Homo sapiens: one gene and its partners. The protein of the gene in region 1 purifies or fractionates together with the protein of each later gene. This does not show direct contact. Each region holds a gene or a part of one and is shown in the gene's direction. Other genes may lie near its edges.

Region 1 (3,500 bases):
CTCCTGACCTCGTGATCTGCCCGCCTCGGCCTCCCAAAGTGCTAGGATTACAGGCGTGAGCCACCGCGCCTGGCTAGAATTTATTTTTTTAATGGATTTACCTAAATGGAAAGGCAAATTTATTTTTTAATCAGTAAATAAATAATAATACAAGTGATACCTAGATATGGCAAATATATATATATGTCTATATGTATATATATGTGTATATATATGTATATATATTTTTAGCAACAGGTGGCCATGAATATTCAAAGTTGAGAAACCAGTGCTCTCCACCCAGGACCTACCTGGTACATAGTAGATGCTCTGTAAATATATGGCTGTTGCCAGATTAAAGCCAGGCTTCTCTCTGCTTGATATTAACGTACTTTTTAAGGGAATTTCAAACTTGTATTCTTTTTTTTTTTTTTTTGAGACGGAGTCTTGCTCTGTTGCCCAAGCTGAAGTGCAATGGCACAATCTCAGCTCACTGCAGCCTCCACCTCCCGGGTTCAAGTGATTCTCCTGCCCCAGCCTCCTGAGTAGCTGGGATTACAGCTGCGTGCACCACGCCCGGCTATTTTTTGTGTTTTTAGTCGAGACGAGGTTTCACCATATTGGCCAGGCTGGTCTTGAACTCCTGACCGCAGGTGATCCACCCGCCTCGGCCTCCCAAAATGCTGGGATTGCAGGCATGAGCCACCTCGCCCGGCCTCAAACCTGTTTCTTAAATGGACTATTGTTATGTGTGTAGATGCCAAGTCTTTCAATGACTAGTCTGTGCCCAAGGAAGGTGGATAGATCAAAGCTCCCAGATTCCTTCTCCTTAGAGGGTTCTTATATATCCATATTTTTGGCAGCAATGTCAACGTTAAATACCTCACAGTAGTCCCAGGGCAGAAGGTAGTTATGCCTGAGCCCCTTCAGAAGTGTGTTCTTAGGCACAGACAGATCCACTGTCACACTACTACTAGTCAGGGTAGCTCTTGCCACATATGTCCTGTGCTCATTCATTCATTCATTCTATAGATACTTACGGAGCACCTATTTTGTGCCAGGCATTGTTGTAGGGCCTAGGGAGACATCAATGAAGAAAACAGGTTTTTAAACTCCCCATGCTGGTGGAGCTTGCCTTCACCAGGCAAGCTGGAGTGAAAGAGACCATAAATACAATAAATGTGGAAATGACACAGCATGTTAGAAGAATGTGACTGTTGTTTTGGGGGGACATGAGCAAGGTAAGGGGACTAGGGATTGCAAGAGGTGGGGATGGGGGGTGGCAGTTGGGGTTGGCCTTACCGGGCAGGCAGAGTCTGAGCAAGACTGAAAAGAGGAGGGAGAGCAAGAGAGGCAGAGGATACGTTTAGGGAAAAGCCCGCTGGGCAGAGGGCCTACCAACATAAAGGTGGTGAGATGAGTGCATCCCTGGCATATTCAAAGAACAGCACAGAGGCAGGAGCGAGGGAGAGCATGGGAGATGTGGTCAGACAGGTCGTGGAGAGGGCCCTTCCAGGCCATTAGAAGGACTTTGGCTTTTTCAATGAAAGAAGTGGGGAGACCCTGGGGTGCTCTGAACTTCTCAGGAATGTCATGGGCAGCTCCTGATTTTTTTTTTTTTTTTTTTGTGACGGAGTCTCACTCTGTTGCCAGGCTGGAGTGCAGTAGCACGATCTCTGCTCACTGCAACCTCTGCCTCCCGGGTTCAAGCGATTCTCCTGCCTCAGCCTCCCAGGTAGCTGGGATTACAGGCACCCGCCACCACGCCCAGCTAATTTTTGTATTTTTAGTAGAGACGGAGTTTCACCATGTTGGACAGTCTGGTCTCAACCTCCTGACCTGGTGATCCGCCTGCCTTGGCCTCCCAAAGTGTTGGAATTACAGGCGTGAGCCACCGTGCCCGGCCAGCTCCTGATTGAAAGGCTCACTCAGGTTGCTGTGCTGATAAGGAATGTGGGGTGCAGAGCGGAAGCATGGAGGCCAGTTAGACATCCCTCGGGAGGTGCTGAACTGAGTAGAGGCAGTGGAAGTGGCGAGAGGAGACACATACTCAGGACCTATTGTGAAAGTAAAAGTAAAGGATTTAGCTGCATGACCCGGCAATTCCACACCTACACATACACACAAGAAAACGGAAAACAGGCTTTCAAACAAAACTTTGTGCAGGAATGTTTATAGCAGCATTATTCATAATAGTAAAAAAGTGGAAACAGGCCGGGTGCAGTGGCTCATGCCTGTAATCCCAGCACTTTGGGAGGCCGAGGCGGGCAGATCACGAGGTCAAGATATGGAGACCATCCTGGCTAACATGGTGAAACCCTGTCTCTACTAAAAATACAAAAAATTAGCCGGGTGTGGTGGCATGCACCTGTAGTCCCAGCTACTCGGGAGGCTGAGGCAAGGGAATCACTTGAACCCAGGAGGCGGAGGTTGCAGTGAGCCGAAATCGCGCCACTGCACTCCAGCCTGGGTGACAGAGCAAGGCTCAGTCTCAAAAAAAAACCAAAAAGTGGAAACAACCCAAATATGTATCAACTGGTAAATGGATAAACAAAGCACACTGCATGCTCCACAATGGATGAAACTTAGAACCTTAAAAACATCATGCTGAGTGAAAGAAGCCAGACACAAAAGGCCATGTATCATGGGATTCCATTCATGTCAAATGTCCAAAACAGGTAAACCCATACAGACAGAAAGCAGTTTGTGGGAGGGGTAATGCAGAGTGACTACTAATGGGTATGAGGGGCTTTGGGAGGTGATGAAAATGTTCTGAAATTAGTAATGATGGTTGCATAACATTGTGAATGTACTGGAAACCACTGAATTGTGCACTTTCAAATGGTGAATTTTATATGAGTTTTACATTTTTTTTTTTAAAGGGAAATGATTAGGCCAGGCACAGTGGCTCATACCTGTAATCCTAGCACTTTGGGAGGCCAAGGTGGAAGGATCACCTGAGGTTAGGAGTTGGAGACCAGCCTGGCTAACATGGCAAAGCCCCGCCTCTACTAATAATAATACAAAAATGAGCCAGGCGTGGTGGCGGGCACCTGTAATCCCAGCTACTCAGGAGGCTGAGTGAGTGTTTCAAGGCACGGACATCCAGGAATCTCTATTGATCAGTGTGGAAGGAGTCTTTTTCTAAGGACCTAGACCATTCAGCAGAGGGCAGGACACTTGGGGCAGGTGGCATAATTCCCAATGCAAGGACTTGATGTTGGCCTGTGTGGCAGGTGGTCTTACTCTGGGCAGTCAGTACCCTTTCTTGGTTTCTCTTTAAAGAGTAGGAAGGCTGGGCCGGGCACGGTGGCTCATGCCTGTAATCCCAGCACTTTGGGAGGCTGAGGAGGGCGGATCACCTGAGGTCGGGAGTTCGAAACCAGCCTGACCAACATGGAGAAACCCTGTCTCTACTGAAAAATACAAAATTAGCCAGGTGTGGTGGCGCATGCCTGTAATCCCAGCTACTTGGGAGGCTGAGGCAGGAGAATTGCTTGAACCTGGGAGGCGGAGTTTGC
Region 2 (3,500 bases), on another chromosome or scaffold:
TAAGGAAGTTATTTCATTTCTTTGCTAATGGTTTGTCCTCTTGGTGACTTGAGTAGCAACACAGCCTGGGAACGAAACCTTTTTTCTCTTATCATAGTTTTATCTCTTTTTCTTCCTTAACATGCTATCTGGACCCAATTTTTCTTTATTTCATTGAGCTGATTAAACCATATATTTTGGCCATGGGGAAAAGAATAGTTGAAAATATATAGTTGAAAATCTATACGTATAAAATATTGTGATAAGTTTTATTTGAACCATGATAAGTTTTATTTGAACCTAACCTATTAAAGGTATGTTTTGTCTTTTCTAGGATTTTCTTGACATTATCTAAATAGGGAAAGAATAAAGTAGCAAAAATGAGTGACTTTAAGTAATTTAAATAAATTAAGTATCATAAAAGGTGGTCACATATTTTCTAGAATTATTTTAAATTCTTTAATAAGATAGGCTGTAGTTAGCAGTAGTATCAAAGTTCCAGTTCTCTTGACATAGTTAGTATTTGCTGAGAAACTGCCTGGAAATGCAGTGGTTTTCATTCTGTGAGGTAGGGGAAGTTGTTCTGGGAGGGGATGCACTGTAGTAATTAGGTTTTATTTTCCCATATGAAGTTAATTAATTGTTGTTAAGTTTAATTTCTACTGCTGTGGTCTCTTTTGATTAGTGTCCTGCAGTTAATCTTTGTTTATATGGAAGTATCATGGGAACCCATTCACCTGCTCTTCAGAACGCAAACATTTCAACCATAGATTTATTTTTCTTTCCATATCTTTAGAAAGCTACTTAAAAAAATTAAATCTGATGAGTTTGTATCATTTGGAGTTCTGGAATATGGAGAAGACTCATTTAATCAGTCAGCAAAGGCTTTTACTAACTATATTGCTCTTTGGTGAGGTATATATACGTAGCATAGAACTCATGGCTTTTGCTTTTGAGTTTACAGACCACTTAGGGTTTAAGACATGCATTTGTGAAGCATTCACGTCCTCTTTTTCTCCTTTCCCGCTTTAGACTGAGTGGTCCATTATTGTAGTTAGTGTACTGCAAATGCCCATTTATTTTCTGGCCCCTGTAATCTTCTGTTTTACTCACCTGCCAAAACCCAACACTGGTTAAATTCAACTTGGCCAACTGTTTTTATACCTTATAGGTAAACACGGACGGAGGAAAATGGAGACAACTTTGCTGATTAGTCTCATTTATCTTTATTTTTATTTTCAATTTTTTTTCGAGACAAGGTCTTGCCCTGTCACCCAGGCTGGAGTGCAGTGGCATGATCCTAGCTCAATGTAGGCTTGACCTCCTGGGCTCAAGCAGTCCTCCCATCTCAGCCTCCTGAATAGCTGGGACCACAGGTATGCACCACTGCATCCCCTACTAAGTTTTTAAAATTTTTTGTAGGGACAGGGTCTTCTATGTTGCCCAGGCTGGTCTTGAACTCCTGGGCTCAAGCAATCCTCATCCCTTGGCCTCCCAAAGTGTTGAGATTACAGGCACGAGCCAATGCACCTGGCCCTGATTAGTCTCATTTTAAAGAAACAATCTCAGTCGCAAATGCACATTAAATACTGCTAACACTCCCACAATTCTTTACTATGTCTATTCTTGAAAATCAATATTTCAAACATTTTCCTCCTTTCTGAAGCCTCTAATTTAAACTCTCCTTTCCTCTCTCCCCTACCTCATTCTTTTAGACCTTGTCTTTACTGAGAAAATGAAAGCCATCACAAGGCAAGTTCTTCTTTCTACCTCAAAATTCACTAGCTTATCTACATTTGTACCTATTCTGCTACTTTTTCTCATATTGAAATACATTAAATGTCTCTATTCCCAGATAAATCTAATCTGTGTACTTACACCCTGGATTCCATTTCCTCTCACCTTCTGAAAATGTTGCTCCTACAGTTGTATCTTTGTGCTGCTATAACAAAATACCACAGACTGAGTAATTTATAAAAAAAATTTCAACCTGAATTTTGGAGAGAACATTCAGATAATAGTAGATGCTGAACTTCCTGTACTATCTTTCTTTGGCTAGATTCCACTGTCTTCTGTGTTTCTGCTACAAGACTTCTTTTAGACTCTACCCCACCTTGCTAGAGTCTTGGCTTAGCCTTCTGTTCTTTTTTAGAGAAGAAACTTAGGGCTTTCCTCATTCCTCATATTCTAAGTGCTCCAACCTGAATAACCATCTCTCTCTCTGGGATTGCTCTCTGGTCTGGGTCTGCCACCGCCTTTGCTTGAACTTTAGTATCTTTGACTATGAGTTCTTGCCTCCTTTAGTCTGGTTCTTCCAGTCTTGATTGTAACTCACGTCATACCTTTAACCCCCCACCTTTAAGTTTAAAAAAATCCTTATTTTCTGCTCTCCAAAATATAAGATATTCTAATACTAATTTCAGTGAAAGACATAGTTGGCTACTCTACCTTTTTCCCTGCCCTTGCTGCTTATTTTGCTGACTTATGATCACTGCTTGTCTAAGGAGAAACCTATTGTCTAATGCTGATTAGGAAATGGCATGATGTTTGGTTGTCTTACCTCTCTGAAAATAATGTTTACAGACCATGTGGCAAAGGAATAAAAATTACCTGTGGCTCAAAAGAGAGTGGATTGCAAAAACAGCCAATAATTCGCAAATAATTTGATTTTTCAGATGTGTCTTTATGAATCATTGATCATATGTTTGACTTGATAATTGTTATGTATTTTAGATTTTATTCTGATGAATTATAATACGTTTAAGTAAAAAGGCAAATAGTTAAATTCATTCAACAAATATTGCATACCCACTATGTGCGGGATACTGAATTAGGTGATACAAAGAAGAAAAGACAGCTCCTCCTCTCAAACTTGCTTTTGATAAGTTTTGTGGAGTTGGGACTTTGAGAAGCAGGCAAATTGTGAAAAGCAATATATAGAGAGAGTGATATTGCAAAGTGAAGTCATGTACTTCTGAGTGTGGAAATGCAAAATATAGGAAGATTGAAGGAGCTTTTTTTCCCTCTCTCAAAACAATACAGTGTGAGGGAAGGTTTCACAAAGGAGCCAGCATTTGAGGGCAGAATCTTTTTTTTTGTTTAACTTTATTTTATTTTAGATTCAAGATATACATGTGCAGGTTACATGGGTATATTGTGTAATGGTGGGGTGGTATGATTTAGATCTGTGCCCCACCCAAATCTCATGTTCAGCTGTAATCCCCAGTGTTGGATCTGGGGCCTGGTGGGAAGTGATTGGATCATGGGGGTGGTTTCTAATGGTTTAGCACCATCCCCCAGAGCTGTTATTGTGATAGAATTCTCACAAGATCTGGTTGTTTAAAAGTGTGCAGTATCTCCCCCCTCTCTGTCTTCCTCCGGCTCTGGCCATGTGAAGATGTGCCTACTTCTCCTTTACCTTTTGCCATGATTGTAAATTTCCTGAGGCCTCCCCAGCCATGCTTCATGTACAACCTACAGAACCGTCAGCCAATTAAACCTCTTTTCTTTATAAATTACCC
Region 3 (3,500 bases), on another chromosome or scaffold:
AAGGCTCATACAGATTATATGACTGTCTCATGGTCATGGGAAATTAGGAGAGATCTGAGGATAAATTTCATGCCTCCCATGGCTCATCCCAGTGCTTATTCAACTACAGTGCATGTCGTGCCTATAACCTCACCTAGTTGCTCACATCAATTTCCACTGCAGGTTCCAAGCTGGCTTACTTCATCCAGTGGAAGAAAGGAAATAATGCTAAATACAGAATTGTGTTTCAGGTACAGAGTAATAGATAAATTAGAAATAGGACAAAGTTGAACTCCAAAGGATTTTAGGGTAATAACACCTTTGATTCTGGCAAAATAAATTAATAAAGATAATTATAACAGCAATGATAACATATTTATTCTGAAGACATAAGATGTCAAGCACTGTATTAAGCTTGATAAATATTCATTTAATCTTCAGGGCCACCAAATGAGAATAAAGGCTAATATTATTGCTGTTTAGAGAATAGGAAGCTGAAGTTGAGAGAGTTTAAAGAATGTGCTAGAATTCACACAACTGTATGTGATATAGCTAGGATTCATACCCATGCCTGACCACAGAGTCATATTGGATATGTCTTCTTACTGTGTGAGACTGTTAGGTTGGTCAATTAGGTTGTTATTGGAGCCTACACTAGGACCATGTTACATTTAGGTAGGTTGAATCAGGCCCAGACTGGATTACACTCAAACAGCACACAGGTTTAGGGCTATAAACAGTCCTTTATCTTCCTTGCAATGTAATGTATCCAAGTTGCTGGGAATCCCATATATAATTAACTTAGTATTTACTAGAACGCTTAGTTCAAGAAAGCTTTTTATTTAAAATGTTAGAAGAGCTTATATCCAACTCTCAACTTATAAACTATTACATAACCTCAGGCTTCAGGAGAAGAATTATTGCACTATGTGTGGAATTCTTTCCTTACCATTAGCCGAATCACGTTTCACTGCTTCTGTAACAATCAAACCTATGAGAAGATTTGATATTCAAAATTTAGAGCAAAAATGGTCATTTATATTCTACACACTGCATTACTCCCATAGAGTCTGCAGCACAAGATTACTCACTATTGCTCTCAAGAAAAAAAAAAAATCAAGAATTCACAGCCAGACTACTTAACAACTAGGCAAACAAGTTATATCATCTAGCATGACAGATGGTGAAATTATGAGGCGATCCAACCTATGTTTCTGCATTTACCTCATCAAAGCAAAGGGCAGCTGCCCTGGCTTAAGCGGGGATGAGCTGGGGGTACAAAGGGATGTAGCACTAGTTTCAAGCCCTGGTCACTTCCAGGAGATGTTCTTGATTTTCCTGATAAAGCAACATACCACATATATTATTTTTAGTCTTATAAGTACATTTTAAAACTGACATTAGAAAGCTAGCCTATTCAAAAGAGGAGTACCACGATGGTGAAAGGCACAGTTAAATGAAAAGATTTGTGCATGGTTTGTTTAAGTAGAAGACTGGATTTTTTCATTATGTAGCACTTGAGGGCAATGCACAGACCCATGGATAAAAGTCTGGAAGTCACAAAAAAGGCACACTATTGGCAAAATACAAGGCAAAACCCAACCAACCATTAAAATGATAGCTAGAACTGACTCTTCTGACTAGAAAGAAAGAAAAGAGAAAGCAAGAAAGGAGGGAAGGAAAAGGAAATACACAGCCTCCAATTTTTAAGAAATAGAGGGATGAGGAATATGCCAAAATCTACACCATAGTAGGCAGTAGGCTCTGGGAACCTCTACAGTACAAACAACCCAGTTACTTCAAATAAGTTCCTGGGAACAAGAACAAGAAAATCTGGAGAACAGATGAAAAGAAATGTAAAAAGTTAGCAACCCATCACAATGTATGGAATGGTTGGATCATGATTCAAACAAACAACCTTAAAAAATTCTGATGAAACAAGTGAAAATTTAATATACTCTGGATGTTAGATAACCTTAATGAATAATTATATTTTTAGTGGGATAACCGTATTGTGGTTGTCTTTTAAAATTACTTATTATTTGGAGATACACATTCAAATATTTATGAAGGAGGTGATGTGATATTTGAAATTTGCTTCTAAATAATATGCCCAAGAAGAAAGTAGTTGGGGTGTGGGTGGGGTAGGATTGGCCATTAGTTGATTATGTTGAGGCTGATAATGGGTACATTAAGTTTCATTATAATATTGTCTACTTTTGGGATTATTTAAGCTTCTTCACAATAAAGAGTTAAGAAAAAAAACAGAGTTGATGTTGTTAGTAGAGTAAATCTTTTAATAAGAATTTAATTTTCATAACATATATGGGTCAGTGAATTCTCTGGTCACCAAATTTATTCGTAAGTGCAAATTACTCTCTAAATTGAACAGTGTCTGTTGTTACTGAAATGAAAACCAAATATGCTCATATTAAGCAGAGTAGTCTGGAAATATACTTATGTTTGTAAAAGCAGACAAGGAAGTAATCATTTTTAATATCTATTATAATATGGGAATCTGGAGGTTAGTTTCATATTATTGGTAACATTAATTAGAGACATTAATTAGAAATAGTTTGTTTTTGAGATAGGTCATGGGAAAACCTGAGAACAATTTGAAAGCCTAAGAAGTCAACATGATGCAAGAAAAAATAGTTCTAAAAAGTGCTATGGCTTGGAACATTGCATTTATTGACAGGGTATTAAGTATGAAGCTTTTGTATGACTATCTCTTTGAAATATCACAAAAACTGTGAAAGGCAGGTATCACATAAACCTGATTAGTCTGACTCTGAAACTTCTTGTTATTCTTTACTGCTCAAGTTCACTTTAGGAAAATAGAAAAAAAAAAAAAAGCAGATTGTGAAAACCAGGAGAGTATAGTTCACTGAAAATCAGAGAGAAAATATAGTGCAGAGCTGGGAGAAAGAAGCATTAAGAAAAGAGAGTGTGATAGAGTAGTAAGTGCATGGAGTTTTACTTAAGTCAGAAATTGGGGTTCAGGCACTATCTCCACTACTCAACCACTCTTGGTCTGGGGAGGATGGGGCCTCAAAAGAAGGGTCATGAACTTGGTTAATTAAAAATAATATGGCCAGAGGAATTTTTAAAAATTTTACAAGATCATGCTATTTGGCAAATTAAGTTTATGTTTTTTAAATTGTTCAAATCATCCATGATACAAAATTTGCAGTGACAATGAGCAGAAAATATAGCTGTGTAGTGTCAGCCCTTGTTAGGTTCCGTTAAGAAGCTTTTTCTTGTAGTTTTTATTATTATTTGTAATAGGAACTATTTTTCTCCCCACCCCATAAGCACATAGTATCCATGAAAATGTTCCGTTTATGAGCTTAAATGTTTCTTATTTTTTTTCCTATTTATTTTTGGTTATCATTATGACTGTAATTTAAAATTCATGCTACTTTTACAATGCAAAAATGAATTGAGGCTATTCAGTTATTATACTAAAGGCTTAGGAATCCATAGAGACTTAAGGCCTCCAATACTGTTGGCATTAATTT
Region 4 (3,500 bases), on another chromosome or scaffold:
CTACAGAAGCGAAGGGAAGATGATTCTTTGTGTAGGCATAGGAAACAGAGCAGACTTCTACAATGGAAAAGGAGAGAGAACTAAAGGAAAGGACTCTTCCCAGAGTAAAACACACTGGAAAACTCAGTGTGCTTCCACAGAGCATACTTAGCTTTCCCATGCAAGGGAGAGGCCTATTAGAGAAACAGAAATTTACTACTTTGGAAGAAACCAAAACCCAGACCTATACTAGTCAACCTAATCCTTCATTCATAAATAAGAATGGAGAATTAATGGTCACCAGACATTTGCATGAAACCAATGACAGAAAAGGACCAAGATGAACAAATAGAATGGACTCTAGAATAGGGAAGTAGAAGCTAATTAAAACAAAAAGGAAAGCAACTTTTAAACAATTCCAATGTGGAGTTATATGTATAATAGAAGCTCTTTGTCTGGATTCCCAGCTCCCTTCATCTCTCTGTAAAACACGCTAATGAAAACTCGTGGCTGCTTCCGTCCCACTAGGTGCCTATTCTCTGGATGCCCTCCTCTCCTCCCCCAGTTGAAGTGTATGCTTAGGAGGAGTCAGTGAGGGTCATTTCCAAACCTGTGTAGGCCAGTTGCACTTGTTACAATAGTTACATAATTCGACTAAAGAGTGTAAAAACCCTTGAAATAAGGGCACAAAGAGAGAGTTGTTTTTATGGAAATGAAGTTGAATGCAGCTACTGCCCCCAAGTCTGAGTGTTGGTTCATCTCCTCCATCAATTTCTTGAAGTCCACAAGCTATAAACTAACAGAGAAGTTATCTCCTCCCTATCCACCAAGTTTCCTACCCAAACCAGCATATAGCAGTGGAGGAAGAATATGATGAGAGCAGTAGAGCTCCCATTTGGAAAAGGAAGAAGGGGAAGGGCCCGCAGCTCTGCTCTGCAGCAGTGGTGGAACCCTGCAGGGTGGGACCGGTGAGACGCCTTCTTGGCATGAAGTAAGCTCCTTGGTTTGAACCTGTTGCTGCCCTCAGAAAGAGACTCCTGTGTGCTCTGGCCTCGTCCCCTGGGAGCTTCTGCCTTGGTGGTAATGCTCTGTGGCCATATCTGAAGTGGACATTAGAAAATACGCCCTCCCTGGTGGCTGCACAGCTTGTGCCACTCACTTCCTGCTTGTGTGAGCAGCTTTAGGGCTAAACAATTGCAAACTTGGAGGGCGGCTTCTTACCTGCCTCCTGCCACTGCCTATGTTTGCAGTGAGATTTCAGAAATGTGTAGGCTTCTGGCTGTTCGCATCTAATCAAGTTCATGTGAAAGTGACCCCAGTCGAGGGTCTCATCCTGTTGTATTTGTAAAATCTTCGGAATTTTGCTGATTTTCTGGTGCTTTCTTTCATGCTCTCAATTTAATGGTAGTTATTTTTTACCAAATGCTCTGCTCTGGCACAATAAGGTTTGCCACCTTTCCAGCCTGCGGGATCCTTATCTATTTCCTTACTGCCCGCCATTTTCCCACTGCCCAAATGTTTGGCTGTTCCCTCATTTTGATTTTTTTTGCAACCATAAAACACTCCAGCCGGGCGTGGTGGCTCATGCCTGTAATCCAGCACTTTGGGAGGCCGAGGCAGGTGGATCACGAGGTCAGGAGATCGAGACCATCCTGGCTAACATGGTGAAACCCCGTCTCTACTAAAAATAAAAATAAAAAAATCAGGCGTGTGTAGTGGCACGTGCCTGTAGTCCCAGCTACTTGGGAGGGCAAGACAGGAGAATCGCCTGAACCCGGGAGGCGGAGCTTGCAGTGAGCCGAGATCACGCCAGTGCACTCCAGCTTGGGCAACAGAGCGAGACACCGTCTCAAAAAAAAAAAACAAGAACACTCCAGTGTCAGCTAACAAATTGTGTATTAGTCAGAGTATAGGCTAAGCTACCAAATAAAAACAAAACCTGCAAATACAATGGCTGAGATGAGGGAGAAGCCTCCTTCTCTCTCTGAGAACAGTCCTGGCATGCAGGCCGTGTGGCGTAGTGGGCAGTACTGCCTCATAGGATAGTCCAGCCATGACTTTTGTCTTGTCACTGTGCTGTCCCCTGGGCATTGTTCTGGTCCATGTGGGCAGTGTGTGTGTGTGTGTGTGTGTGTGTCACTGTGCTGTCCCCTGGGCATTGTTCTGGTCCATGTGGGCTGTGTGTGTGTGTGTGTGTGTGTGTGTGTGTGTGCAGTGTGTGTGTGTGTGTCTGTGCACATGCCCAGGCCTGGGAAGGTGGAGGGCAAGCAGTTCCCTTTTCAGGAAATGGGGTGGAGTTGAATGAGTCCCCTTTTCTTTCGCACATTAGGAACTTTATCACGTGGCTACATTTGAGGGCAGAGATGAGGCTCCAGCAGGGGGAGTGGATTCTGCTGAAATCTGGGTTGGGAAAGCCATTCTAGTACTAAAGGAAGAAATGGATAATAGAAACCAGGGACAGTGCTTTCTGTTGCACACTTAAAACAAAATGGTACAGAAAGGTTGAAAAATAAATAGATGGACAAAGCTGTCTTGAGAAGATGCAACGAAAACCAGAAGTGACAATATTAATAGTGTGGAATTCCACGTGCAAAAGTTTGCAAGAAGGATGTTTAATATTGATAAGAGGTTCAACTCCATACTCTCCACTAAGACGACTGAACAGTTCCAAAACTTTATGTACAAAACAGCATGACATTTATATATTTTAAGCAAAACCCGTTAGAAGTAAAAAATACCATCACTTTAGAGCACGATTTAAACACCCCTCTCAGAAATTCACAGATCAAATAGACAAAAACTAGAAAGGATAAGAATTGAATAGTGCAGTTAATAAATTTAGAGTATGTATGTGTGTGTATACATGTGGGGGCACAAAACTTTGTAACTGACAGTGTACTCACTCTTTTTCAAATCTCTGTAGAGCATTTATTTATAAAAGTTGATGTAAAAGACATTTTTTTCTAAAATTAATCTATAAATTCAGTTTCTATCACAGTTAAAAGTCCCAGTGAATTTTTTTGTGGAACTAAGCAAGCTAGTCTTAAAGCATACTTAGAACACGTTCAAAAATAACCAAGACAAGTTTGGGGATGGGGAAGAGTAGTAGGGAGAGCACCTTCCCAGATCTCAGAACAGTGGAAAAACCACAGGAATCAAAGTGGCACAGTACTGGACAGAGACAGACAAATGTGTGGGCTCTGCTAGGGCCAGAAGCAGACATAGATATTGGTTCTGCATGGAATTTAGTATAGGATAAAGGAGGGAGGGGAAGAGGCTTCAAAACCTGTCTCTATGCATTGTTTGGGAAGTAGGAGTTAGAGCCCTATTTCACACTATATACAGAGCTTAAAGCCAGGTATATAAAGTATCTAAATGTAAAAAAGATTAAAAAGTGCTATAAAGAAATAGAGGAGAATATTGATATAATTTTGGCTTTCCTCAGCAAGCAAAACCCAAAGCCGTAAAGAAAAGGATTTAAGGTTTTACTACGTTAAATTTAAAGTTTCCATAGGACAAAT
Region 5 (3,953 bases), about 27 Mb from region 1:
GGATTGTGTAGTGTTCTACTGTATGGTGCATATTCAGTGGAGTGGGAGTTAACTTCATAGTTTGTGTACCATTTGGATGCACATTTGAGAGGACAACATATTATTGGCACTTTGCAATTTTAAAAACTCGGATGAAAGTTGCCCTGGTAGGAAAGAAAATCCTTACTCTCCCTAAAAATGTTGGCTAGTTGTTTTTATTAATCTGACAAATGGACTAAAGAAGGTTGACCAATGTCCACAAATTTATGTAAATGAACTTATGAGCTTCATTTATCCAATTCCAAAGTCATTTCAGATAGGATAATAATGCAATCCACTAGAATATCCCTTTGTACCTTGTATTGCAGAATAGATAAGCATTTCCCCAATAACTCTTAAGAATGAATTTATGTACTGTAAAAGATATGACATAAGAGAAGTATTTTGAGATATGAAGAAGAGCAACGTAGTAGGGTATATCATTTCTTAGCTACATCATATGGGCAGTATACTTGAATGAATATTTCCTGAAGTAGAAGAGTAAAGAAAAATTATTTTTATAAAGAATGTTAATATAGTCAGGAAGAGGAGATGTTTGGGGATTGGTATAAAATTGCCACAACTTTACAAAATAGTTTTAAATAGTATAGATTTCCCTAATATGTGTAATATAAAACACTAGAAATATTGGGGAGTTGGAAATCATAGAAATGAACAGAAGAATGATAAAATTGTTTCCATAGCTAATAAAAAATGAATTTTTGAAATCAGTATAGTATGAAGGCTCTGAGAGCAAGAACTGTATCATATTAATTATTATATTGCCAGTGACAAGGGCAATACTTAGTTCTAGCTAAGAGTTCAAGGTATGTTTGCAGAATGGTGAAAGAATGGACCAATGTATGCAGGTTTGTATAAAAACCCAACGTGATATTTCTAACAATTTGGAAAACAGAGAAAGATACCTTAAAGAAGTTGTTATAATTTTTTATTAAGTATATGGACGTAAAAACTTGGCTTGTTAAGTTAGGCACACAAAAACAATTACTGCACTGGTTAACTTGAAGCCGCAGAGGCTGTAGTTTCCTAGTGCTGACTCTGGGCGCCGCTGTTGGCCAAAGTGCAGAGCTTGGCGCTCCAGATCTCCTCGCGCAGCCGCAGCGCGCTTTCCAGGGCAGCCCCAGCTCAGACTCCCCAGCGCCGGCCTTTACACCGCTTCCTCCTCGGAAAAAGAATCGTTTCCTAAACTGGAACTGGAACTAAAGCCCGTTCGGAGATCCAAAAATCTACAATACAGAGGTTATTTGTAACCTGGCGTCTCCAGGCTGGTGAGCAAGCTGAGGAGAGCAAGAGGGATGGGGAGCGGCGCCGGGGAGCTGGGCCGGGCTGAGAGGCTGCCAGTGCTCTTTCTCTTCCTGCTGTCTTTGTTCTGCCCGGCGCTCTGTGAGCAGATCCGCTACAGGATTCCCGAGGAAATGCCCAAGGGCTCCGTAGTGGGGAACCTCGCCACGGACCTGGGGTTCAGCGTCCAGGAGTTACCGACTCGAAAACTGCGCGTCAGTTCGGAGAAGCCTTACTTCACCGTGAGCGCAGAGAGCGGGGAGTTGCTTGTGAGCAGCAGGCTAGACAGGGAGGAGATATGCGGGAAGAAGCCAGCTTGTGCTCTGGAATTTGAGGCTGTTGCTGAAAATCCACTGAACTTTTATCACGTGAATGTGGAGATCGAGGACATTAATGACCACACGCCAAAATTCACGCAAAATTCCTTTGAGCTGCAAATAAGTGAGTCTGCACAGCCTGGCACAAGATTTATACTAGAAGTAGCAGAAGATGCAGATATTGGCTTAAACTCTCTGCAGAAGTATAAACTCTCTCTTAACCCAAGTTTCTCATTAATAATTAAGGAGAAACAGGATGGTAGTAAATACCCGGAACTGGCACTGGAGAAAACCTTAGACCGGGAACAACAGAGTTACCATCGTTTAGTCCTGACTGCCTTGGACGGTGGACATCCACCCCTAAGCGGCACCACTGAGCTCCGGATCCAGGTAACCGACGCCAATGATAATCCCCCGGTATTCAACCGAGACGTGTACAGAGTCAGCCTTCGGGAAAACGTGCCACCAGGCACCACTGTGTTGCAAGTGTCAGCCACTGACCAAGACGAGGGCATCAACTCAGAAATTACTTATTCCTTCTACAGAACCGGGCAAATCTTTAGTCTGAATTCAAAGAGCGGAGAAATTACCACTCAAAAGAAACTGGATTTTGAAGAGACCAAGGAATATTCAATGGTTGTAGAAGGGAGGGATGGTGGTGGACTGGTTGCACAATGTACAGTTGAAATTAATATTCAAGATGAAAATGACAATAGCCCAGAAGTTACATTCCATTCTCTACTTGAAATGATTCTGGAAAACGCGGTGCCTGGAACACTAATTGCTTTGATCAAAATACATGACCAAGATTCTGGGGAAAATGGGGAGGTTAATTGTCAATTACAAGGCGAAGTCCCTTTTAAGATTATCTCTTCATCCAAAAATTCGTATAAGTTGGTAACAGATGGAACCCTAGACCGAGAGCAAACCCCGGAGTACAATGTCACCATCACAGCCACAGACAGGGGCAAGCCGCCCCTCTCCTCCAGCATAAGCGTCATCCTACATATCAGAGACGTCAACGATAACGCTCCGGTTTTCCACCAGGCGTCCTACTTAGTCAGTGTACCCGAAAACAACCCTCCTGGGGCCTCCATCGCGCAAGTCTGCGCCTCGGACCTGGACTTGGGGTTGAACGGCCAAGTCTCCTACTCTATCATGGCCAGCGACCTAGAGCCTCTGGCACTGGCCTCTTACGTGTCCATGAGCGCGCAAAGTGGGGTGGTGTTCGCGCAGCGCGCCTTTGACTACGAGCAGCTGCGCACCTTCGAACTCACACTACAGGCCCGCGACCAGGGCTCGCCTGCGCTCAGCGCAAACGTGAGCCTGCGCGTGTTGGTGGGCGACCGAAACGACAACGCACCGCGGGTGCTGTACCCCGCGCTGGGTCCCGACGGCTCTGCGCTCTTCGATATGGTGCCGCGCGCTGCAGAGCCCGGCTACCTGGTGACCAAGGTAGTGGCCGTGGACGCAGACTCAGGACACAACGCCTGGCTGTCCTACCACGTGCTGCAGGCTAGCGAGCCCGGGCTCTTCAGCCTGGGGCTGCGCACAGGAGAGGTGCGCACAGCGCGTGCCTTGGGCGACAGGGACGCGGCCCGCCAGCGCCTGCTGGTTGCTGTGCGTGATGGTGGACAGCCGCCACTCTCCGCCACCGCCACGCTGCACTTGGTCTTTGCTGACAGCTTGCAGGAGGTGCTGCCGGATATCACTGACCGCCCTGTACCCTCTGACCCCCAGGCTGAGCTGCAGTTTTACCTAGTGGTGGCCTTGGCCTTGATCTCAGTGCTCTTCCTCCTGGCCGTGATTCTGGCCGTTGCCTTGCGCCTGCGACGCTCCTCCAGCCCTGCCGCCTGGAGCTGCTTCCAACCTGGTCTCTGTGTCAAGTCTGGACCTGTGGTTCCCCCCAACTACAGTCAGGGGACTTTGCCTTATTCCTACAACCTATGTGTTGCACATACAGGAAAGACGGAGTTTAATTTCCTAAAATGTAGTGAGCAATTGAGTTCAGGACAAGACATACTTTGTGGTGATTCATCTGGGGCCTTATTTCCACTTTGTAATTCCAGCGAGTCGACTTCCCATCCTGAGTTGGTGAGTTTCATTTATGTCTATTCTTTTTCATTACCCACCCAATTTTCTGTATTTACATGAAACTATCGTACATTTTCAAGTCCAATGAGTTGTCTTAGGGAAGTCAGAGCTGCTCAGAAAGCTGTCCTACCATTCTTTAAGAGGAGCAGTAAATTGTGAGTTTTTATGTCGCATAAAAGAAGTAGCCTTATAGATTTACAAAGTAGTGAGAGTTTGCTCTTA
Region 6 (3,500 bases), on another chromosome or scaffold:
TAATGACAGGAGCTCTTGGGGCGTCGTCATGAGGATTACCTTGACTTAATTCAGGAGACGTGCTTAGAACAGTGCCAAGCACAGGGTGAGACCACAGTGCCAGCTGTGGGGATCATTGGTATGTTCTCCTGGGTGAGGACAAGTAGAGTGAGGGCTGCAGGCCCACTCAGCCGGGACAGCACTTCCTGGGACATAATCTTGGGGGCCTCAGCTGGCCTGGATCCTTGTGCCAGCTCTCAGTGGGGACTAGCCTCTCCCCACATGCAGGGCCACTTGCTGTGGCCGCTCCCTTGGCCCAGACTTTCTCTTCAGTCACAACAGGTGCAGCCTCTGGAAGGTCTTTTTCTGCCAGGGATGTGCCTGCCAGCTTGGGCTGGGAGAGCTGACTTCTGCTCCGGGTGGAGTGAGATGTTTTTATTGGAACCAGCCTTTAGCTGGCTTGGGGATTTCATTTCTCCTGGCATAGAGGTAGGAGGTGATTAATGCTGAATGGGCACTTGCTTGGTGCCAGGTCCAGTGCTGAGTGCTTCATGCATGGCACTCTATGTAATCACAGCTCAGCTGTGCAGAGCTGCCATCCTTATTCTTGCTTTACAGACAACCATCTGAGGCTCAGAGAGGCTGACCAACTTGCCTGAGGTTGCACAGCAGGGAGTGGTGGTCTGAGGATTTGACCTTGGGTCTGTTCCATTGCAAGACAAATGCCCTTTGAACTACATTGCAGAAAGACAGTTCTAGGTCCCAAAACCTGGTGGCTTAAGGGGCACTGTGGGGACTCTGAAAGGTGTCTGGCTACCAGGACGTGTACTGCAGCCCTGGTTGAGCCCTCCAGTCCCAGCTCCCTGCTTCAGCTGGCTGGCAAAGCTTTGCATGGTCCAGCCTGTGCCGCCCTTTCATCCTCATGCTCTGCACTCTCTCTGTTCCAGGCTTGTTGGCCTCCGCACCTGCTGCTGAAATACAAGCTTGTTTCTGCGTGGGGCCTTTGCATGGGTCGTCTGGCTTCTTTCTGTTTCCATGTTTCAGATGAAATATCCTCTCTACAAAGAGCCCTTTCATGACCTGCCAACCTAGAGCTGCCCCTCCCCACTTTCCCCCTATTTCTCCATTTCCAGGTTGCACAGCACCTTTCCATCCAGTGCTCACTCTCTGTCTCTCCACTGGAATGTGTTCCACCTGAGCAAGGGCTGCCTTGCTTTTGCTCACCCTGTCTCTCCAGTGCCCAGGACAATGCCAGGCACATACCAGCCATCAGGAGGGTTACCAACTACTTCCTACAGGAGCAGGGAGGGGAGGCAGGGAGGGGCTCGGCTAAGGGGAGAGCTCCAGGCAGGTTGTGAGGTGTGGGTGCTCTCCTTGCTAAGGGCAGGGCCAGCTGAGCTGGACGGGGTGGCTCCTAGGGTGGGTGCGAAGGTTGGTTGAGGTGCAGGGACTTTCACAGAATCATGCTTGGTCTCTGGGACTTTAAGGGCCATCTTTTCCAGCCTAGCACCTGCATTTGGGGACACGAAGATGAAGAAAGTGGAGGCCAGTTGTCAAGGAAGGACCTTTCCTCCCAGTGCCTAGTCACTACCCTGATATCCCACCAAGAGGCAGCCCAGCCTTGGCTTCCATACCTCTCTAGTGACAGGGGGTTCACTACCCTCTAGGCAGCCATGCCACACTTTGACAGCTCTGACTTGAAAGTGTACAGCCTCTCCCTGCCCCAGGGTGACCCACATAATAAACTGCCTCCGTCTCCTGACAGGGCCCCTTCCTGTCGTCTGAGCAGGGCCTGGGCGATGACGGCAGCTCCTCTTTCCTGCTTGCTTCCCTCAGTTCAAGTGCTGTGGCGGGGAGGACTACCGAGATTGGAGCAAGAATCAGTACCACGACTGCAGTGCCCCTGGACCCCTGGCCTGTGGGGTGCCCTACACCTGCTGCATCAGGAACACGGTAGACACTGCTCCTGTGGGGACTGGGGGGCTGTCGGGGACCCCAGGTGGTATAAATGTTCTCTTTTCTCTCTTCCCAACTTGAAGATGGGTGGTGTGGGTGGATGGCAGGGAAGTAGGAGTTGGTGGCAGAGCGGAGGCTTTCCTGATTCTCAAGGGCTCCTGAAAGTGGAGCTTCTGGGGGTCGGGGGTAGGGAGACCATGTCTTTCTTAGTGGTGTTGGTTAAAATCTATTGAGCACCTACCTTGTGCAGGCCTGCTCTGGGCACTTTGGTGGTATTTACTCATTTAGTATTCACGACAACCCTGTGAGGTATGTACTGTTATTTTACCCACTTTACAGATGAGGAAATTGAGGCACTCAAAGGCTGGGTGTCTTGCCCAAGGTTGGCAGGGCTGGGATGAAGTGCAGGCAGCTGTTGCCTGAGCTACACTCTGGAGAACTGTGCAGGCCAGGTGAGGGCAGGAGGGAGAGGTGCCCAGGCCAGGGGAGCTTAGCGGGGGTAGCTGGCTCTGCAGCATTAGTGGAGGCAGGCAGGACCTGCACCTTGGGCATCTCCATTGGTCTTTGGCCTTGAGGTCCTGGTGATCATCAGCAGCAGAGTGCTTGGAAGGGGGTCTGGTGACGTAAATGCCATCCTCTTCCTCTCCCCAGCACGATCCTCTCGGGTCTGTCACCTTGGTCATTTGGGATGATGTCTTGTGTTGTCAGCGCTTAAGTGAAAGGCTTCATCAGTCCTTGTGTTTGACAAATGTGTCCAGAAACTGTTTCAGGATTGGAACGAGGTGGAGAGCTTTGCAATTACTCATGGCCCAGATAGTCATGGAAAGTTTTTCTCCTGACATTGCCACCATTCTGTGCCCACTGCTGGATTCTGTAAACTGAGCAGCTGCGGGTGGGGGCCTCGCCCATGAGTCAGAGAGCCAGTGCCAAGTGCACTAGCTCTAAAAAAGGCCGGGCCAGGAGGGAAGCTTTGTTTGGAAGTGTTAGCTGCCATTTTAGGGTAGTTCTCTGGGAAGTGGGGTGCTGAGGAGTAGCAGAGTTTCCAGAGAGGCCTGCGTGGGGTGATCCTGAACCTCATCACCCAGGGCAGCAGCATCTGAATACCTAAGCTGAGATGTGGAAGCCAAACTTGTATTCATTCATTCATTCATTCATTCAACAAATATTGGCTGAGAACCTACTCTATGCCAGACACATTTCCAGGTTCTGGGGGTGTAGCAAACAAAGTCTCTGCCCGCAAGGAGGTGACATCCTAGTGGAGAAAACTGACAAACAAAATAAGTAAAAGATAGAGGATCATAAATGCTGAGTAGAAAAAGAAAGTAGGGCATGGAGGATTGCAGTTTGGGATACTGAGAAAGGCGGGATCTGGGTGAAGCTCTGAAGAAAGTGAGGAAGGTGTCTGGGGGAGGGGCATTCCTGGCAGCAAGAACAGCTGTGCAAAGGCCCCAGGTGGGAATCACCCCAGGGCGTTTGAGAAATGCACAGAGTGGCTGGAGCAGAGGGAGCACAGCGGAGGATGGTAGGAGGTGGAGTCAGGGAGGTCATGGGTACCCCGAAGGCCA
Region 7 (3,500 bases), on another chromosome or scaffold:
GGGAGTATTTGTAGACACCTACCCCAATGAGGAGAAGCAGCAAGAGGTAATGGCAAGTGTCAGAGCCTAGGTCAGCTACACTGACATCACAGTTCTTTGCCTCAGGAATGTTGTACAGGAGGGAACAAAGGAGATAGAAAGTGAGGGGTTCTTCATCTGTTGAACTTTGAAAGTTAATGTCCTTGTCAGTGTTTTTTTCTAAAGGGACTATTTAGGAGTGCACAGTCTTTTGGGAATAGCTGTCTTGAACAGGGGCTTTTTCTTTAGTGATAATCATGTTCTCTCTTGTGCCTATTAGATAGCCACTAAAATTGAGCATGTTTGGTTGATTGGTGATTTGGCTGCTAGACCAGCACCAGAGCAAGCTGAATTTACGTAACTCAGCCTCCCCTGACTTTTAATCCATCAGTGCTGTGCTCTCTTCTGCAACTTGCACACACTTTTCAGCTTCTTTTTCTTCTTCTTCTTCTCAGACCTGAAGAACAGTTCTCCTCGCCTATAGAAAAGGCTATAATTGGCCAGGTGTGGTGGCTAACACCTGTAAGCCCAGCACTTTGGGAGGCCGAGGTGGGCAGATCACCTGAGGTCAGGAGTTCGAGACCAGCTTTGCCAACATGGTGAAACCCCGTCTCTACTAAATATATAAAAATTAGATGGGTGTGGTGGTGGGTGCCTGTAATCCCACCTACTCGGGAGGCTGAGGCAAGAGAATCACACCATTGCACTCCCCCCTGGGCAGCAGAGTGAGACTCTTGTCTCAAAAAAAAAAAAAAGAAAGAAAGAAAAGGCTATAACGAGAAGGAAACTGATGAAAGCCCAGCATTTTGTTGGAACCTAGTATCTGGCTGTTGGCAGGCCTTTTTGTTACCTGACCTAAGAGTTTTTTAGTGCTTTCTTTTTTTTTTTTAATTTTTTTTTTTTGAGACAGAGTCTCACTCTGTCGCCCAGGCTGGAGTGCAGTGGCGCGATCTCGGCTCACTGCAACCTCTGCCTCCCAGGTTCAAGCTATTCTTCTGCCTCAGCCTCCCGCGTAGCTGGGACTACAGGCGCATGCCACCACACCCAGCTAACTTTTGTATTTTTAGTAGAGACGGGGTTTCACCATGTTGGTCAGGATGGTCTCGAACCCCTGACCTCGTGATCCGCCTGTCTCGGCCTCCCAAAGTGCTGGGATTACAGGCGTGAGTCACCATGCCCGGCTATTGCTTTCTTATATTGACAGTGGGTTTGTACTCTCTCTATGTCCTACGGCACTGCCATCAGATGGTGGGAAATTATGACAGGTTGTTGCTGGGTATCCTGTAGCTAAGTACCTAGCGAGGAAATCAGGATTAGAAATAGAGGCAAAGGTCACATTATTTTTTTCCTCAAAGGTTTATTATGAAAATTTTCAAACTTAAAAAACATTAGAAGGCCAGGCATGGTGGCTCACGCCTGTAATCCCAGCACTTTGGGAGGCCGAGGTGGGCAGATTACTTGAGGTTAGCAGTTTGAGACCAGCCTGGCCAACATTATGAAACCCTGTCTCCACTAAAAATACAAAAATTAGTATTTTTATTAGTATTAGTGTTAACCTGTAGTCCCAGCTACTTGGGAGGCTGAGGTGGGAGAGTCACTTGAACCTGGGAGGTGGAGGTTGCAGTGAGCTGAGACCACGCCATTGCACTGCAGCCTGTAATCCCAGCTACTCAGGTTGCTGAGTCAGGAGAATGGCTTGAACCCAGGAGGCGGAGGTTGCAGTGAGCTGAGATCACACCACTGCACTCCAGCCTGGGCAACAGAGCAAGACTGTCACCAAAATAAACAAAAAAAATTAGAAGAATAGAGAATGATCATTGTATCTGTGATGCTTAGATTCAACAGCTGTTAACATTTCCCACAGAACTCACTTTTTATTTTTTATTTTTTTTATTTTTTGAGATGGAGTCTCGCTCGTCTCCAGGCTGGAGTGCAGTGGTGCAATCTCGGCTCACTGCAACCTACATACACCTCCTGGGTTCAAGCCATTCTCCTGCCTCAGCCTCCTGAGTAGCTGGGATTATAGGCACACGCCACCACGCCCAGCTAATTTTTGTATTTTTAGAGACAAGGTTTCACCATGTTGGCCAGGATGGTCTCCATCTCCTGACCTCAGGTGATTCCTCCACCCTGGCCTCCCAAAGTGGTGGGGTTACAGGTATGAGCCACTGTGCCCAGCGAGCTCACTTTAAAGGTGGTGGAATGTGAGACCTGAGTTAGGAGAATAACCTTTTGTTGTGGATCAGTTACAGCTGCTTCTCTGTGTTCCTTCTGGGCTGTTCTTCATTCCACATACATTAACCACTTTCTAGGTGCCAGGCCCTGGGAATTAGTGAGCAAGATAACATGGTCCTTGTACTCAGTAGCACTGAGAATGCTGATGGGGGAACTCTGGGGCACTATGGGAGGACACAGCAGGAGCTTCTAACCTGAAGTGGGGCAGTAGTGTTGGTGGTAGTGGGGAAGGCTTCTTCCAGGAAGTGCCTTTTAGGTTGAGGTCTGCAGAGTAAGGAACCCGTGTCCCATGCAGAGGGAAAAAAGCCGAGGTCCTAAGGTTAAGAGAGGGGATGATGAGGCTGGGTGCAGTGGCTCATGCCTGTAATCCCAGCACTTTGGGAGGCCAAGGCGGGTGGATCACGAGGTCAGGAGACCGAGACTATCCTGGCCAACATGGCGAAACCCCGTCTCTACTAAAAATACAAAAATTAGTCAGGTGTGGTGGCATGCTTCTGTAGTCCCAGCTACTCAGGAGGCTGAGGCAGGAGAATCGCTTGAACCTGGAAGGTGGAGGTTGCAGTGTGAGCTGAGATCACGCCACTGCACTCCAGCCTGGGCGACAGAGTGAAACTCCATCTCAAAAAAAAGAGAGAGAGAGGGGATAATGAGTGTGTGGAAATAAAGTAGAATCAGAGACAGATGAGGCTAGAATGAAAAGCAGGGCCAGTAGTCTTGTTATGTTGCACAGTTCCTAGGGCTGCTGTTCACCTTGCATTCTACAATATTAACACTGTAGCCTCGGCATGTTAACTAGCCGCTGAGACTGACTGGCATCTGCTTGGGTGGTTGGTGGCTGAACTGTTTAGATGAGAGCCAGAGCAGACTGAATGTATGTGACTCATGCTCACCATATACCACTTGGGGCCAAGTTCTGAAGGATTGTGTTCCTGTTGAGGAGTCTGGACTTGATTCTGAAGGGGTAGGTACATTAAAGGATTTTATTGAAGAGAGGATCATGACTGGATTTGTAGTCATGCTGAGGAAATAGTGGTAGTTAGAAATGGATCTGAATAAGAGTTATCAGCTTTAGGGCCTGACAAGAGTTTTAAACTTGTCTCTCTGTTTCTTCCAGAAACAAATTGTTCAAACTCTGTTAGCTTCCATTTCACCATGAGATAGTAGTAATTCTGGTTTGAGAAAGTAGAAATTCTGACTTGGGTTTATTTTGTAAGGATTTTGTAGATGTTAATTAAAAAAAATTTATT

What was found.
Region 2: the proteins of TENM2 (region 1) and DNAJC3 purify together in Homo sapiens (co-immunoprecipitation; one large-scale study listed by IntAct). This does not show direct contact.
Region 3: the proteins of TENM2 (region 1) and TRDN purify together in Homo sapiens (co-immunoprecipitation; one large-scale study listed by IntAct). This does not show direct contact.
Region 4: the proteins of TENM2 (region 1) and PACC1 purify together in Homo sapiens (co-immunoprecipitation; one large-scale study listed by IntAct). This does not show direct contact.
Region 5: the proteins of TENM2 (region 1) and PCDHGB5 purify together in Homo sapiens (co-immunoprecipitation; one large-scale study listed by IntAct). This does not show direct contact.
Region 6: the proteins of TENM2 (region 1) and TSPAN15 purify together in Homo sapiens (co-immunoprecipitation; one large-scale study listed by IntAct). This does not show direct contact.
Region 7: the proteins of TENM2 (region 1) and LMAN2L purify together in Homo sapiens (co-immunoprecipitation; one large-scale study listed by IntAct). This does not show direct contact.

Annotation. Positions count from the first base shown.
Region 1 is NC_000005.10:168,256,029-168,259,528, forward strand, and holds part of TENM2 (teneurin-2), read left to right. Parts: intron 1-3,500. UniProt on the Homo sapiens protein: Involved in neural development, regulating the establishment of proper connectivity within the nervous system. Acts as a ligand of the ADGRL1 and ADGRL3 receptors that are expressed at the surface of adjacent cells.
Region 2 is NC_000013.11:95,680,139-95,683,638, forward strand, and holds part of DNAJC3 (dnaJ homolog subfamily C member 3 precursor), read left to right. Parts: intron 1-3,500. UniProt on the Homo sapiens protein: Involved in the unfolded protein response (UPR) during endoplasmic reticulum (ER) stress.
Region 3 is NC_000006.12:123,630,451-123,633,950, reverse strand, and holds part of TRDN (triadin), read left to right. Parts: intron 1-3,500. UniProt on the Homo sapiens protein: Contributes to the regulation of lumenal Ca2+ release via the sarcoplasmic reticulum calcium release channels RYR1 and RYR2, a key step in triggering skeletal and heart muscle contraction.
Region 4 is NC_000001.11:212,380,387-212,383,886, reverse strand, and holds part of PACC1 (proton-activated chloride channel), read left to right. Parts: intron 1-3,500. UniProt on the Homo sapiens protein: Chloride channel gated by pH that facilitates the entry of chloride ions into cells upon exposure to extracellular acidic pH. Involved in acidosis-induced cell death by mediating chloride influx and subsequent cell swelling.
Region 5 is NC_000005.10:141,396,794-141,400,746, forward strand, and holds the start of PCDHGB5 (protocadherin gamma-B5 isoform 1 precursor), read left to right. Parts: upstream 1-1,153; 5' UTR 1,154-1,334; coding exon 1,335-3,731; coding exon of another isoform or gene 3,732-3,791; intron 3,792-3,953. UniProt on the Homo sapiens protein: Potential calcium-dependent cell-adhesion protein. May be involved in the establishment and maintenance of specific neuronal connections in the brain.
Region 6 is NC_000010.11:69,496,465-69,499,964, forward strand, and holds part of TSPAN15 (tetraspanin-15), read left to right. Parts: intron 1-1,744; coding exon of another isoform or gene 1,745-1,815; coding exon 1,816-1,932; intron 1,933-3,500. UniProt on the Homo sapiens protein: Part of TspanC8 subgroup, composed of 6 members that interact with the transmembrane metalloprotease ADAM10.
Region 7 is NC_000002.12:96,730,065-96,733,564, reverse strand, and holds part of LMAN2L (VIP36-like protein isoform 2 precursor), read left to right. Parts: coding exon 1-46; intron 47-3,500. UniProt on the Homo sapiens protein: May be involved in the regulation of export from the endoplasmic reticulum of a subset of glycoproteins. May function as a regulator of ERGIC-53.